Linked DNA regions of Homo sapiens: all the other regions are linked to region 1. The links come from fine-mapping of genetic effects on gene expression. A gene starts in region 1. Each other region holds a variant in brackets. All regions are shown on one strand. Distances are between the middles of the regions. Region 1 holds the start of AOPEP (aminopeptidase O (putative)). Region 2 overlaps AOPEP (aminopeptidase O (putative)). Region 3 overlaps AOPEP (aminopeptidase O (putative)). Region 4 overlaps AOPEP (aminopeptidase O (putative)).

Region 1 (4,167 bases):
GAAGGTGGCCTCTGCTCTGGAGATCGTCTTTTGGTGGCCTCTGGGACCTTGCTTCATCAATCATCCAGCCCTCTAAATCCTTGACCTCAGCATCTTCCTGTTTCCAAGCCCTTTCCACCTCACAAATGTGAATGTTCCAGTCTCTTCTTACAGGAAAAACCCACAAATGAACAAAACCCTCCCTTAAGTCCACATCTCCCTCTAACTCTTCTTTATCTCCTCACAGCCAAATTCCTTAGAAGAACTGTCCTCGACCGGGCACAGTGAGGTCAAAAATCTACTCGGCATCCTGAGTGTTTAAGAAGGCAAGAAATTGTGTAGTACATTTTTAAAATTTCCATCTCAAAGAGTCAATAAAATTTTCATTTCTAAAGAAGTATTAAGCTCTCAACTGTAAAATTACCCATTCCCTGAGGACTCCAAACAGCAGGGTTTTACTGCACAATCTTGTTTGCCATTTATCTCATTCTTAAAAATAAGGATGGTGTGTGTGTGTGTGTGTGTGTGTGTGTGTGTGCATGCGCGCACGCAGGAAGGATCACAAATTAAGCTTTCCAGGTGTTTTAACTCCAGGAATATGGGAACTTAACACAGTATTAAAGATATTAAAAAGTGTTAAATCATTTGTGTAGGTGAACAAACTCATAAAATTGTGTGCAACTATTGTAAAAAGCCTAAAATTTGAGCATTAGTAGAGTCCTTTAAGAAAAGTGCAGGCTTTGAAGTTATATTCAGACCTGAATTTAAATCTTGATTTTGCCATTTAGTTAACTGTGAATTTTTAGCAAGTCAATTTCATATAACCGAAACTCAATTTCCTTCTCTATAAATTGGGGGTAATAATTCCTAACTCACGAGGTGGTTGTATGAAGTAAGGAGAAAACATATGCAAAGTGTTGAACACAGTACCTGGGATAAAGCAGATGGGCCAACAGTAAGCAACTATTATTATACCCTAACCTTATTCTACTTTGTCCCCCAAATATTGGAAGAATCTAATCTTCCCAATTAGCAAGTCATTGGAAGGCTTCCCAGACTTATACGAAGCACAATATACACTATTCAAAAATGGAACAGACTAAAAGTATTTTAAAAATACAAAACCAAACAATCAATGAGATCAAGGATTTCAGAATTCTGCTTCTCGTCCCATATACTCAGCATCTATTCTGTCTGGTTTTGTAATAACCCATATTATTTCTTTATCAACCATATGAACCTTATTGTTGTTTTTTTGCGATCTAAACATCCCTAGCGGGTTATGTTACTTATTTTGAGGGCTACCTTTGCAAGGGTAATTGTCATCATTGCACGAAAACCAAAAAGAAATCAGGTACAAGGGGCATTTTATGCAATGCTATTAACTGTTCCATGCATCTCAACAGTGGATTGGATCCTAAGTGGATATTTTATTATCACAATAGATAATCATAATCACATTACTGTGCCACCCCCTCCCCGCCCATGCATGCGTTCATGAACAAAACTCCAGACTAACAGTATGAATGTTCTATAGGGACCCCAAAACTCAAAATGTGGTGCTCTCAGTAAAGATCCTCCGGGGGAAGAAGAGGCGGATGGGTTTCACTGCAAGTGGAAATGAATCGAATCGAAACTGTTCTGCCTACTTAAGACTGGAGATGAGCCCTGTGGGGCTAGAAGCCGAGACCGGCAGGTGACCGAGGGCCTGGAGGCAAGAGACGAAGGAGGAGGCACCCAGAGGCTGAGAAAGGTCTGTGCCGCCGGGGAGAAGACAGCCAGAGCCCGTGGCCACCTCTACAGCTGAGGTGGTAAGATGTGACCGCTCCGCCCAGTCCCCAGGATGGGTTTCAGCCCCAGGAGTCTGGGAGAACTGAGGAGGGGATGCGGGTCCTCGCTGGTCGAGCAAAAGTGAGGGTAAGGGAGGGTTCCCCGTCGCCTTCAGAACGGAATGATGCTGTCCCCGCCGCCATCCCGACGCCGGAGGAGAGGAAGGCAGGGACCCAACAGGGAGCGAACAGGTTACCTGTCTCAGCCGCGTCCCACGGGTCACCACTTCCGCAGACTCGGGGTTACTACGGGCTACCCCGGCACGCGCCGGGTGACGTCATCCACACGCGCCCGGGGCCGCATTCTGCCTGACCCGCCTTCCGCTAGGCCCGCCCCCTTAGGATGAGAGGGCGAGACCGCCCGGGGGAGATCTGCGCAGGCGCGGAGCTGCCGCGGTCATAGGAGGGCGCGAGCAGCTTGGCTGGCTAGGGCTTGTAGAGTTGCCCTGGTACCCTAGTATTCCTAATTGCAAAATCTTTATGAAGCTTAAGAAAAAAATCACCAGCCTGGGCAACCTGGGGAGGCCCCGTCTCTACAAAAAAATTAAAAAATTAGCCGAGTGTGGTGGCGTGCACCTGTGGTCCAGCTACTATGGAGGCTGAGGCAGGAGGATTGCTTAGGTCCAGGAGTTCGAGGCTGCAATGAGCTATGAACGTGCCACTACACTCCACCCTGAGCCACAGAGCAAGACCCTGTTTCAAATAAAATTTAAAAAAAGTTACTGAAATACAGATGTGCAATTTTATTCCTTAGCCTAGTCTCACCTCTGCTGCATGTGACTATTGTTCACATATTAATTCCACCACAATTTAAGGTCCTCCTGTGTGCCAGGCAAGCACCCTTAACAAAAGCTGGGGAAACAACCAGGAACAAGACAGACGCTGTGCCTTCCCTCATGGGGATTACTTTCTAGTTGAGAAAGCAAACATTAAATGTAGAAGGAAAGGCCGGGCGCGGTGGCTCACGCTTGTAATCCCAGCACTTTGGGAGGCCGAGGCAGGCGGATCACAAAGTCAGGAGATCGAGACCATCCTGGCTAACACGGTGAAACCCCGTCTCTACTAAAAATACAAAAAATTAGCCGGGCGAGGTGGTGGGCGCCTGTAGTCCCAGCTACTCGGGAGGCTGAGGCAGGAGAATGGCGGGAACCCCGGGGGGCGGAGCCTGCAGTGAGCCGAGATCGCGCCACTGCACTCCAACCTGGGCGACAGCGAGACTCCATCTCAAAAAAAAAAAAAAAAGTAGAAGGAAAATAAGTTGCTGAGAAATTAAAGGAAGACAGGTGACCTTTTGATTTGAGATGTCAAGAAAGTGCCCTCTGAAGAGGTTCAGTAAACTGAGAAGCAGCCAACTCTGTGGAGAGCTAAGGAAAGAACAGCCAAGAGAAGAATCTACATGTGAGCAAGCAATAGGGAAGGGGCAGAATGTGGTGCCTTGGAGAAAGTGAGAAAGTAGGTCATGGGAAGAACAGAGGATGAGATCAAGAAGGCAAGGAGAGTCCCCATCATGCACAGACTCTCTGGGTTCCTGTGAGGAATACGAGTTTATTCGAAGTGTAAGGGGAAACTAGTGAAGAGTTATCAACACGTAAGTGACAGGATCTAGTTTTATAACATCACCCTGCTAGCTGCTGTGTATACATGAAACTTTTGAGAAACAATTTAAAAGGATGCAAAGAGAAGAGTTGCTTTTGCAATGAGCAGGTAAGAAATGATAGAAATGGACAAATTTCAGGAATAATTCTGAGGTAGATGTGACAGACTTGGAGATGAGTTTAGATAAGGGAGATAAGGAAAAGAAAAGTGTCAAAAATAATTCTTAAATTTGGGGCCTAAGCAAATAGCTGGATCATATAGCTAAAACAAGGTTTGTTTCACCTCCTTTCAAACTTGATTTCTTTGCTTGTTTCCAAGTCAGTCCTCTAGGTTCTCCTGTCACCTATCTTTCCTCAGTTTCTATCACTGGCTTCCACTTTCCCTTTTCCTGAGCTCTTTTTTCCCTTGGCTTTCTTAGGCTCCATCAGAGGCTGCAAACCCCAAAGCCTACAGCAGCCGGGCAGTTAACACAAAGGAGTGAAGCCCAGGGATAGAGACTGTGGTGATCTGGAGCTCGTGGTCCCTACCACAGCTCTGTTGATTTTTGCCAACCAGGAATGCTGACCCGGTGATGTCAGATCCCCTGCTTAAAAGATAATCGAGGGCCGGGTATGGTGACTCACGCCTGTAATCCTAGAACTTTGGGAGACTGAGGCGGGCAGATCACAAGGTCAGGAGTTCAAGACCAGCCTGACCAATAAGGTGAAACCCTGTCTCTACTAAAAATACAAAAATTAGCCGGGCGTGGTGGTGGGTGCCTGTA
Region 2 (4,167 bases), 150 kb before region 1:
TTGCCTCCTTAAATGATTCTTTGCAAAAAGCAAGCAAACATTTTAAACAACAGACTAAGAACATGACGAAAGAGGACTGTACTCTGAAATAACCCTGTTTCCTCTCTTTACCCATCTCTACCTAAATAATTTGCTCCACTAATCTTCTAGTCAAATTACCCTTTCACCCTTTAAAGATGACGAAAAAAGAGAAGTTGGACAGATGTCTTACAAAGTAAGAGCTTGTGATCAGCCAGGCCTTCCCGCCATAACCACCTTCACTCCATGTTCTAAAGCTGAGCTTAGAGCCATAGTAAAGGACTCCCTAGCCCAAGGGGAAGTCCTCAAAAATTTACTCATAAGAGCTTACAATCCAGGACTCCCTGACCTTTACCAGTTTATTCACATGATACTGGGACCTGTGGAAGCTTGAAAATGAGTGACAGCTGCAGAATGGAGCCAACCTGAGGAGGGTATTAAAGACCCCTCCAAAACCCCCTCACAGGAATGGCTGAAATAAGCTAGAAACATTGCCAAAATCATTTTAGATTCAATTCCTAAGATTTTTCCACACAAAAAAATTGACTGGTCCACCATACAGACAAAAGAAGTTTCGGACGACAGAACTCACTTAGAAACACTGCTTGTGAAGCATTTGGGGCTCAAAATAACAGCAAGGAATATTTCCTGCAGGAACTGCATCAACTACTCTATTTATAAATGGACTCTGTCCCAAACTTAGCAGTTTAATTAAAAAAACATAAACCTGGATGGGAAGTTACAGACATGACTGAATTGGTGGCCTTAGCTGAACATTTTGAGAGGACTCTGGAGCAAGAAAAAACCCAAAAGACTACCAAGCTTATGTCTCACCAATTACAACAGTTACAGGGGCTGAGACCAAAGGAACCTTCTTTTTTATTTTAAATCACAACCAAGAGATAGATCCTAGAACAAGAAATTCTTTTCCCCGAGATGTCTGCCTTCCTTGCAAATAAGCAGGACACTGGAAAAGAGTTGTCTGCTTCTCTGTTAGTCTACCAATAAGCCTCCTCCCATTAGGCCACACTGTTTCACCACTAAAGGAAGCCTAAGACAGATCCTGTGTCTTAAAAAAAAAAAAAAAATAGAAGCAGCAGCAGCCACCAAGTTGCTACAAGTTTCATCTGAGCTGGTTTTAGGGAATGAACTTAATTTGCAAATTCCACATGCTGTGGAAAGTCTATTAAATTCCAACCAAGCTCAGCATTTTTCAGCAAGAAAACTAACATCTTATGATCTTATGAAATTTTCTCCTGCCTCCTTCTGACCTCCATCTAAAATGCTACTCCATCTAAAACCTACTTAACCCTGCTACTCCATTACCTCTGACTGACTGTGGTAAAGATCACAATTGTGTAGGTGTAGTATCCAAACTAGTAGCCCCTTGTGTTGATTTATGAGATGCTCCATTGGATAATCCTGAGTTGATACTTTTTGTTCGTGGGTCCTATGCCAAAGTCTCAGAAGGAAAATATCAGGCAGGGTATGTTGTTACTGCCCAAAATGAGTTAATAGAGAAGGGAACTCTTCCTCAATTTAAGTCCGCTCAGCTGGCAGAGCTTTTTGCTCCCACCCAAGCTTGTCATATAGTTAAGGACACGTCAGTAAATATTTAAAAAGATAGCAGATATGCTTTTAGAGTAGTACACAATTTTGGCACATTATGGAAACAATGGGACCAGGTGCGATGGCTCATGCCTGTAATCCCAACACTTTGGGATGCCAAGGCAGGCAGACTGCTTGAGCCCAGAAGTTCAAAACCAGCCTGGGCAACATGGCAAAACCCCTTCTCTACAAATTATCTTGGCATGGTGACTTGCGCCTGTAGTCCCAGCTACTCTGGGGGCTGAGGTGGGAGGATGGGTTGAGCCTGGGAGGTCGACGCTGCAGTGAGCCATGGTCACGCCATGGCACTCCAGCCTGGGCAACAGAGAGAGACCCTGTCTAAAAAAAAAAAAAGAAAAGAAAAAAAGAAAAAGAAAAAGAAAAAAAAAGACAAATATGCATAATAAAAATTACATTATTAAAAAATAAACAATAGGGGTTTCTCACTTCTATTGGGACTCCAGTTAGATGAACTCCTTTCAGCTATCCTGTTAACACTGTTATCATCACAGATCGTTATGATTAAGATTGAAGATGATACCTGTAAAACTGAATCTGAATATCAAAGGAATGCCCTAGCCGATGTGCA[T/C]GTTAAATCAGCTAGTGCTGACACTGTGAGAATATGCAATCTGAATGAACTCCATAAGACTGATCCAAATCAACTCCCATACGGTGATCTATTTAATAAACAGTGCAATGCATTTAATTTGGAAAAACAAAGTTGGTATCTAAAAAAATGTAAATTCAATGTTAAGCGTGGATTCACAAAGGGCCTGACAACCACTTGGTCCTTCCTGAGTCTTTAAAGCTTCCGTTGTTAAAAGGCCTGCACTCCACAACTCATCATGGAACACACAAAATGATCCAAATTATAAAAAAAATTGGTGAGGTATATGTTCCAAAACTGCTAAAATGGGTTACAACCAATGTTTGATTTACCAAACTCATAATCCGAGGAAAACAATAAAAACTTCAGATAGTATATTTCCACCATCTGATGGACCATTTGAACATTTACAAATGGACTTTATTCAGTTATCGCCCTTGCTGAGGTATCAGTTTTTGTAATAGTTTGTATGTTTTCTGGTCAAATCGAGTCTTTCTTTGTAGAAAAGCTGGTGCTGTGCCAGCAGCTAAGAAATTATTAGAAAATGTTTTTCCTTTATGGGGTATTCCTGGAGAAATCTCCAGCTATAGATAGGGAAACTCATTTTACTGGGTAAGTTAAAAGCAGTTAAATAAGGTGTTGTGGATGCAGTGATACTACCATTGCCTTTATCACCCTCAGTCTTCTGGAAATGAAACCACACTTGCAAAATTATAACTGAGACAGTGAAAGAGATCTGAGCTAACCAACTCCATCTTGTTTCTAACCTCCAAGCTGTCCTTGTTCATTCCTGCACATATGCTGAACTAACTTTGGGAATTACTTAGTTTATAGTTTAAAACAAAGATGCTAACAACCCTTTCCCAAAACAAACCTCCTTCTTGCCTGGGTACTAGACGGCCTTTTTAGGACTAATAAATTAGCCTGAAGATTAGAAATTGTAGTTTAGGAGTCATACAGCTGGAGGCTACAAGATTCCAACCCTCCCTAAACTGCTCCTAAGATCAGTGCTTGAGATATTTTGCAGACCCTGGATCAGCTGTCACCACCCAGATTGATAAACTGGCTCATCTGATCTTGTGGTCCCCACCCAGGAACTGACTCAGCACAAGAAGACAGCTGAGTTCTTCCACCCACCCAATTACCCTTAAAAACTCTGATCCTCGAATGCTGAGGAAACTGATTTGAGTAATAATAAAACTCCGGTCTCCCACAAAGCCAGCTCTGCGTGAATTACTCTTTCTCTATTGCAATTCCCCTGTCTTGATAAATCAGCTCTGTCTAGGCAGTGGGCAAGGGGAACCCACTGGGCAGTTACAGAAAGGCTGAAAGAACAAATGGTATCTTAAAACTGAAATTGGCAAAGTTAGCTGAGCCAATTGGGTTGTCTTGGCCAAAGGTACTACTGTTGGCATTAAATGGCAATCAGATCCACTCCCACTGGAAAACATAAGTTGGCCCCTTATGAAATAGTCACTGGAAACGTATGCCCCTAATAGTAGAACCTAATGGATGTTCCACTCTCCTAAACTCTGATATGACTAAATAACGCAAGGTTTTAATGCATTATGCCAAAGTGTATTTTTACCAGGTACAGGAAGCTTTTTGTGATCCACTGACTAAGTACAATCAAATCCTTCATGGTCTAGAGCCTGGAAATTGGGTCTTCGGGAAATAACATCAGAGGAAGACTGCCCTTGAACCCTGTTGGAAAGGACCACACCAAGTTCTTCTCACACCCACACCTGTAACCTTGGGTCCACATCTCACAACACAAAAGGGCCCCTTCAGACTCTTAGAACACCTGTTGGAGACTTTAAGGTAAAGCTGACCAGGAATACTTCTCCCCGAAAGTGGACAGCATCCTAGATGCGGACAGCTTTCCCAAGATCACAGATCAAGACTTTTCTGCCATTATGAAAGCCTTGTGCTTT
Region 3 (4,167 bases), 39 kb before region 1:
TCTTTTGAACACACTATGCTCTTGGTGATACGGGGCACTGCGATTTGTTATTTTCTGTAGATGCTTTGTTACTTATTTCTCATTCGGTTGGTTATGTTGGTTACTTGTTGAGACTGATACAGTCCATCCTTGTATTTTCTTCCATGGTGACTCAACTGGGATTCTGGGAAATAGACATATGCACAGCCTGGGCAGCAAAGAGAGAAAGAAGCTAAAACACGACCCTTCCAAGCATTTTCACTCATGATTCCGACTCTGCAGTCATACAATATCATAGAATTAATGTGTATTCCACTTTAGTTCTCATAAATTTTGCATTGGTTTCTTGAAGAAAGTAAGGGGAAAAAAAGGTGCTAATTGTGGAAATGTTCCTCTTAGACCTGAAATCTCTCCCAAAACATCTTCTGCTCATTCTTTTAATTTTAAAACTTTCCTTTAGAGTGAGATATAAAATAATGAAATTAATTCAGTGGGGGGAGGGGGGAGGAAGAACATGTTTTAACATCTGGTTTTGATACTCCAAACTAAAAATACTCCCAAAGTCTACATCTTCCCTGGCCCAATAGCTGAGCAAGAAATATTACAGAAAAAAGTAGTTCTCCTTAGGATTTTGCTAACTTCATCCCAGTCTTGTCTAAAACAAACAAACAAAAAAATCACAATGTTTTACAAAAGTTTAAATGTTAATATTACTTTATCTTATAATGTATTTTCCCAGTTAGCTCTCTTATCTTTAACAAAAATCCAAATAGCTATAGTTTTTCTAATAAATTTCCTATACATAACCGAATTTTCCTCCATTCAATTCAAATTCAGTGATGTCATCAGCTTAAGCTCAGACCTCCTAAACCACTTGACTGCTTCCACAACTATTATAATGATTCTAACGAAAAAGAGAATGGGTTATCAAAGAGAATGCTTCAGTTTGTTTTGTTTTGTTTTGAGATGGAGTCTCGCTCTGTCGCCCAGGCTGGAGTGCAGTGGCGCGATCTCAGCTCACTGCAAGCTCCGCCTCCTGGGTTCACGCCATTCCCCTGCCTCAGCCTCCCAAGTAGCTGGGACAACGGGCGCCCGCCACCACGCCCGGCTAATTTTTTGTATTTTAGTAGAGACGGGGTTTCACCTCATCAGCCAGGATGGTCTCGATCTCCTGACCTTGTGATTCACCCGCCTCGGCCTCCCAAAGTGCTGGGATTACACGCGTGAGCCGCTGCACCGGGCCAATGCTTCAGTTTTAAATAACGTTTTCTTCAGGGGAATAGAAAAAATGTTAAAAATACAAGGAAAATGAAGAAAACACATCAACTTTGAATAAAGGTTTCCATTTTAAAAGTTTATTTCTTACGTATACCAAAGATCTAGAATTAAAAACATATTAAGTCCCATTCCTTTCTTGAAGCTTGGCAAGAACACCTTTACACAACTCTTGACCCTGTCTTTGTTCTCATCAAAATATTTTTAAAGGGCACACAGACCCGCGTACCACAGAAAAGCAAACATCTTTTCCAAGAAGCACATTGTATCTGATTGTTATATATGTATTCCTTCCATCAGTCATTTTAAATGTCACCTACAATCCAGTATCTGAATGATACAGGCAAGAAGCATTTAGGTTCAACAACTGGCACAACTCCCAAATGGCTAAACTAAGGTAGGAAAATTGAGTTTTCTATTTCCAGATATTTCATATTAGAAGTAGAATAATAATGATAAAATTATTGGTAATCATTCATAATAAATACTCCTTTACAGCTTCAAATATGTTTTCTTCTCCAGAGAACCCTGCCACATGGTAAAGTGGGAAAACAGCTCTTACAAAAGAGATTTCAGGGTAGAAATCTCCAAATTTGAAGTTATCTTTTTAATAATTTTTTTTCAAGACGGGGTCTCACTCTGTCGCCCAGGCTGGAGTGCAGTGGCACAAACATGACCCACTGCAGCCTCGACCTCCCTGGGCTCAAGTAATACTCCCACCTCAGCCTCCCAAGTAGCTGTGACTTATTATTATTATTATTATTATTATTATTATTATTATTATTTTTGTAGAGAAGGGGTTTCACCATGTTGCCCAGGCTGGTCTTGAACTCCTCAACTCAAGCTATCCTCCTGCCTCTGTCTTCCAAAGTGCTAGAATTATAGGCATGAGCCACCACATCTGGCATATATTTTTTTATATTAAAACAGTTTTAGATTTTAAAAATTGAAAAGATAAGGCTGGGCGCAGTCAGTGGCTCATGCCT[A/G]TAATCCCAGCACTTTGGGAGGCTGAGGTGGGAGGAATGCTTGGGCCCAGGAGTTCGAGACCAGCCTGGGCAACATAGCAAAACCCTGTCTCTACAAAAAAATACAAAAATTAGCTGGGCGTGGTGCTGCACACCTGTAGTCCCAGCTACTTGGAAGGCTGAGGTGGAAGGATCGTTTCAGCCAAGGAGATTGAGACTACAAATATATTTTCTTCTCCAGAGAACCCTGCCACATGGTAAAGTGAGAAAACAGCTCTTACAAAAGAGATTTCAGGGTAGAAAGAACTTGGTGAGCCAAGTTCATGCCACTGCTCTCCACCCTGGGTGACAGAGTGAGACCCTGTCTTATAAAATAATAATAAAATAAAAACTAAAAATAAAAATCACAAAGATAATATACAGAGTTTCCATATACTCCATACTCAGCTTTCCCTATTACTGGCATCTTATATTAGTATGCTTGTCACAAGGAGTGAACCAATACTGATACATTTACACACTTCATTCAGCTTTCTTTAGTTTTTCCTCAATGTCTTTTTTCTGTTTCAGGATACTACATTACTTTTATTTTATTTATTTTATTTTATTTTTGAGACACAGTCACGCTCTATCACCCAGGCTGGAGTGCAGTAGCACAAAGACAACTGACTGCAGCCTTGACCTTCTGGGCTCAAGTGATCCTCCCACCTCAGCCTCCCAAGTGGCTGGGACTACAGGTGCCTGCCACCATGCCCAGCTAACTTTTTGTATTTTTAGTAAAGATGGGGTTTCGCCATGTTGGCCAGGCTGGTCTCGAACTCCTGGCCTCAAGTGATCTGCCCACCTCGGCCTCCCAAAGTGCTAGGATTACAGGTGTGAGCCACTGCACCCGGCCAGGACACCACATTGCTTTTAATCATCATGTCTCCTCAGGCTCCTCTTGACTGTGGCAGTTTCTTAGACTTTACGCTGACCTTATTCGTTTTCAGAAGTGCTGATCAGGTATTGTGTTTAATGTCCCTTGACTGGGATGTATCTGATGCTTTTCTCATGATTAGATTGGAGTTAAGAGCTTTTGCGAGGAAGACCACAAAGATGCCATTTTCATCATATCATACCAGAGAATAAACTATCCCCATAAATTATCACTATTGATATTGACCTTGATCATCTTGCTGAGGTAGTATTGTCAGATTTCTCTAGTGTAAAGTTACTTCTTTCTCCCTTTCCATTCTGTTCTCTTCGGCAGGGAGTCACTGACTGTATAGTCCACACTTAAGGAGTGAGGAGTTATGCCCCACCTCCTTGAGGACAGAACATGTCCACAACTAACTTGGAATTGTTTTGCACCATGGATTTGTCTATTCTTCCTCATTTGTTTATTTATTCAATCGTTTATTCACATCAGCTGGACTAATGGCTATTTCATACTTTTGGATGTCATTCGAAACTACTTGATATGTTTTGTTGCTTGGCTTGGGGCATGAGGAGCTCTTTCGGACGGCCCCTTGTCCCTCTGGCATACCCCCATCGCTGTGGGTTGTTGTTCCTGCTGTTTGAGGGCTTCCTTACTTTCTGACATTACAAGATGCTCCAGACTCATCTTGTATATTTCCTGCCCCTGTTCTGGACATTTCTCCAAGAAGTCCTAGTTCTCTTCATTGGAAAATGGTATCAGAAACTAAGATCTGGGTGCTAGGTGTGCTTACTTCTAAGACCCTCTCAGCTGACAAGCCAAGATACAGTGTGTGTATACACAAACACACACACACACACTAACCCTTGGAAACACACATATCTGTAATTATTTCCATATGCAACCATCCATATCAATATTAAGCTATTTCATTTTGATACAAGTTTTATTCTCAGCTGGGATACAGTACAGGTGGGAAATGGGGAAGCCACTAATGGAACTTAAAAGAAAAGGTACCAATTTACAGATTTT
Region 4 (4,167 bases), 28 kb before region 1:
AAGTGTTCTCTCAACACCATCCCCTTCCACTTACTTGAACCCTGTTTCATTTGACATTTTTCTCTTGCCAACATTTTCTCCCCTTCAATGATTACACCCTATTCTGAACATTCAAACATCCCTAGGGTTGCGGGCTCAAGCGATCCTCCTTCCTCAGCCTCCCAAGTAGCTGGGACCATAGGTGCATGCCACCACACTCATCTAACTTTTTAAATTTTTGTAGAGACGAGGTCTTGCCATGTTGCCCAGGCTGGTCTTGAACTCTTCAGCTCAGGCGATCTGCCCACCTCAGCCTCCCAAAGTGCTGGGATTACAGGTGTGAGCCATCACACCTAAGCCAACCTTAGGGTTGCCATCTTTTTTTTTTTTTTTGAGACAGAGTCTTGCTCTGTCACCCAGTGGCACAATCTCAGCTCACTGTAAGCTCCGCCTCCCTGGTTCACGCCATTCTCCTGCCTCAGCCTCCCAAGTAGCTGGGACTACAGGTGCCCGCCACCACACCCGGCTAATTTTTTTGTATTTTTGGTAGAGACAGGGTTTCACCATGTTAGCCAGGATGGTCTTGATCTCCTGACCTCGTGATCTGCCTGCCTCGGCCTCCCAAAGTGCTGGGATCACAGGCGTGAGCCACCCTGCCTGGCCTAGGGTTGCCATCTTTAAAAACAATCAACAACTTCATTTGGCCTACTTTAAGTCATCTTTATTTTATTGAACTTTGGAGCTGAAAAATTCCTTAGGGCTCACTGAATCCAACTCTCTAATTTTACAAATGAAGACAGTGGGTCCCAGAGAGGCAAAGTAATTTGCTCAAGGTCACCCATTTCTTTTTGTTTGCCACTAACAGAACATTTCCCACTTGCTGATGCTTTTCCTTGGAATTCTCATCTCCCAGGTCTCATGGCCATCTCCTTCATATTGTCTAAGTCATAAATCAAATGTCACCTCTAAGTCTCTTTTCCACATCTTCCTTTGACCTTCTTTATCTTCTTCAAGTTATGCAGACTAGTAACCAATTCTTATTGTAATAGCTTTGGGGGGCAAAGGAGAACTTTTAAGCCAGCCCCAGAAGATTCTGAAGAGCACTGTCACTTCTGCATGATTTCCAACCTAAATTATATATAAGTCTATTAAGTTGTTGCTTATTTGTCTATGTCTTACTTGTCTTAGATTCATGGATGACCTAAATCATCTTTCTCTCTGCAAGTACGTAACGCTCACTGACATCAATCAGGGTCACAGCCCCACATTTAGGGAAAAACTGAACTGCCTGTGGTTGCAAATGCATGTATGTGGCCACCTTGCAAGGCCTCTCTCAGCAAATGGAAACCATATTTCTAAGCAGTCCGTTGACTTCAGCACTTTTGGCTATTACTGTGCTCCAATTCAAAATGCCAGCCTGTCTCACTGAAGCATTTTTCCATTCTCTGTCATAAGCCATAACATACAAAGGTCCCCCCTTATAAAAACCAGTGGTTAGTTTTCCAGTGGCTAACCATTGCTGTGTCTAAAATAAGTGTGCTAAAAAAAAAAGAAAAAATAAGTGTGCTATGTGGTATGTATTTTAAATGCTTAAATGATTGTCTCAGCAGCACCATTAAAGGCTTTGAAAGGATTAGCGTACAGTAATATTTTTCTTAAGGGGGAAGAGGATCACATACTAAACAGAGCTATGGCACAAAGAAGAA[A/G]CTGCTCTGCCATTCTCAGCCATCCAAAGTGGAATGCACCCATTTACAAATGTGGGATATAACCTCTGTAACGCCATCCCCAATCACCCCAACGAAAACAATTTCATTCTCCTTTCAAGCTACAAAGCAACGTGTATCCTCACGATTCTAACTTATCCTGGCTCATTTTATAGTTACTTCCATCCTCCAATGCTCTAAAAATTCCCTGTAACTCCTGAATCATTTTTGTGTTCATGACCAGGTTAAGTGGAGTATCCTCAACACAGCAGGTTCTCAATAAATATTTGTGGAATTGCCATCCAAAGGTATTTGTGATTTCAATGTCTAGTTACTTATACAACAGGGATTCTAGCTTGCCTGTACTCTATAGTCTAGTGCTAAGTTATTGCTTAACTAACATCTCCCTCCAGACATCTCATTTTTTCTTCTCAGGATACACCTGTGCCTCTTTTTATGCCTCATCTTTTTACTTGTAAGCAACTGGGGGAAAGGAGAAATTATTTTTGCACATATGCTCATTCTATAGCATAGAGCACACTGTTGAGTAGTTACTATTTAATTCCACCGATTACTTGATCAGAGAATGACAGCTTTCTGCTATTCCAGGTGTGTCCATTATTTAGGATATGCCAATTGCTCTTAATAACAGTCAGTGTATTTGCTGAAATACACTGTTTCTGGGCACAATTCTTCACACACTCAAATGCATATAGTCACAGGAACATAGCTTACTACTGTGAAATTCAATAATTTCAGAATTAGAAGGAAACTTAGAAGTTCAAATATACTGTTTTGTGTTTATAAATGTCACACTGACATATTACTCTGCAACTTCTTTCACTCAATGGTTTTGAAATATAGACATGTTGATGTATATAAATCTGTCTCTTTTAACTGCTGTTTAATGCCCCCACAGGAATATTCTATAATGTATCCATACGTTCCCCTACTGATAGTTATTTGAAAATTTTCTTGATTGCAAACAATGCTGAAATGAGCCTCCTTACGCACATCTCCTAGCTGCACACATGCAAGTAAAAAGATGTGGCATAAAAAGAGGCACAGGTGTATCCTGAGAAGAAAACACGAGATGTCTAGAAATTCCGTTTTGCCTGATGTTAATACTGTCATACCTACTTTCTTTTGGTTTGCTTTTTCCCGGCACATCTTTTCAATCCCTTCATTTTTAACTGCTCTGGACTCTTTTTGCCTTGGCTGTCTTTTTAAAACAACATTTGGCTGGCTATTTAAAAAATATAATTATCATTTTTAATGACTGAAATGAATTTCTTTACATTTATCACAATTACAGTTGTAACAGCACCATCTCAATCAACATATTTTATGTTTTCTATCGCCCATGATTTTCTTTGCTTCTTAGCTTTATTTTTCTGCTTTTTATTGAATTTTTCTACATTCCTGTTTTCCCCTCCACTGTTTCATAACTTACACAATCAATGCCTTTAATATGCCTAAAGTCAATCTCGAATAACCTTCCAAACAATATAAGGACCTTAGAAAGTTTTATAACCAGTCTTCCTCTTCCTTACTCCATAACAGCTTCCATATTATTGTTGCTATTATTTTAGTATCACATTGTTTGTTAAAACTCCATCCAACTTTTTTAAAGTCAATATTTATTTGTATTTACAAATATATTCACCAGCTTCCTTACTCCTGATAATTTATACATTCCACTCCTTCCTTCTGGGTCCAATTTTATTCTACTTGTTGCATGACAAATTAACTTTGTAGCTTCAAACAGCAACCATTTTATTATATTCTATAGGTCATGAATGTGGGTAACAGTCAGCTGGGCCACTCTTCTACATCTTATGAATCTGTCTATGTTACTCAATGGTACTCAGTTGGAGGATGGACTTGTCTGGAGGGTCTGATGCCCAGAAAGGCCGCTTATTTAAACTTACTTAAATAAGTTTATTTAAATAAAGCTTATTTAACACTGAGCTTTTGGAATGGCTGTACATCTTCTATGGTAGCTGGCAGCCCCCAGCACGAGCATCTCAAAGTACCAGTTGAAAACTGCATGGCCTTTTCTGACCGAGCCTCAAAGTCAACATGGTTATTATTGCTACCATAGTCTATTGCTTTCAGGTGCAAACTCATAAGGCCAATCCAGATTCAAGGAGAGGGGATTAGACTCCATCTTTTGATGGGGGAGTAGCAAGGTATACTGTAGAAAAGCATGGAAGATGGTAGATATTGTTATGGCCATTTTTGGAAAATACAATCTGCCACAATTTCCTTTTTACTTAAGTTTATCTTTAGTAATTATTTTAGGAGGAGTCCATGGGTAACAAACTCTTTTAACAGTTGTATGTTTGAAAATGTCTGTATTACATCCTCTCTACTGAATGACCACTTAACTAAGTGTAGAACTTTTGTTGATAGTTATTTTTAATTAACACTTTGAATACAAGATTCCACTGTAACCTGGCATATCTTTTTGCTGATAAGAAAG

Evidence for each region. PIP is the estimated chance that this variant, and not a neighbour inherited with it, causes the effect.
Region 2: its variant is the best candidate, but not a certain one, in a credible set for the expression of AOPEP in fibroblasts (GTEx, PIP 0.68).
Region 3: its variant is the best candidate, but not a certain one, in a credible set for the expression of AOPEP in whole blood (INTERVAL, PIP 0.59).
Region 4: its variant is the best candidate, but not a certain one, in a credible set for the expression of AOPEP in whole blood (INTERVAL, PIP 0.82).

Annotation. Positions count from the first base shown.
Region 1 is chr9:94,724,590-94,728,756 of GRCh38, reverse strand. It overlaps AOPEP (aminopeptidase O (putative)), which reads right to left and starts at 2,058. Exons shown (of 17, transcript NM_001193329.3): 1 at 2,006-2,058. RefSeq lists enhancers at 1,787-2,266, 1,789-2,331, 2,277-2,446.
Region 2 is chr9:94,878,186-94,882,352 of GRCh38, reverse strand. The region is part of intron 5 of AOPEP (aminopeptidase O (putative)); the gene reads right to left. Among named protein-coding and RNA genes, the nearest start is that of AOPEP-AS1, 65 kb to the left of the region's middle. The variant T/C (reference allele first, on the strand shown) is at 2,216.
Region 3 is chr9:94,763,312-94,767,478 of GRCh38, reverse strand. All of the region lies in intron 2 of AOPEP (aminopeptidase O (putative)), which reads right to left. Among named protein-coding and RNA genes, the nearest start is that of AOPEP, 39 kb to the right of the region's middle. The variant A/G (reference allele first, on the strand shown) is at 2,241.
Region 4 is chr9:94,752,453-94,756,619 of GRCh38, reverse strand. All of the region lies in intron 1 of AOPEP (aminopeptidase O (putative)), which reads right to left. Among named protein-coding and RNA genes, the nearest start is that of AOPEP, 28 kb to the right of the region's middle. The variant A/G (reference allele first, on the strand shown) is at 1,686.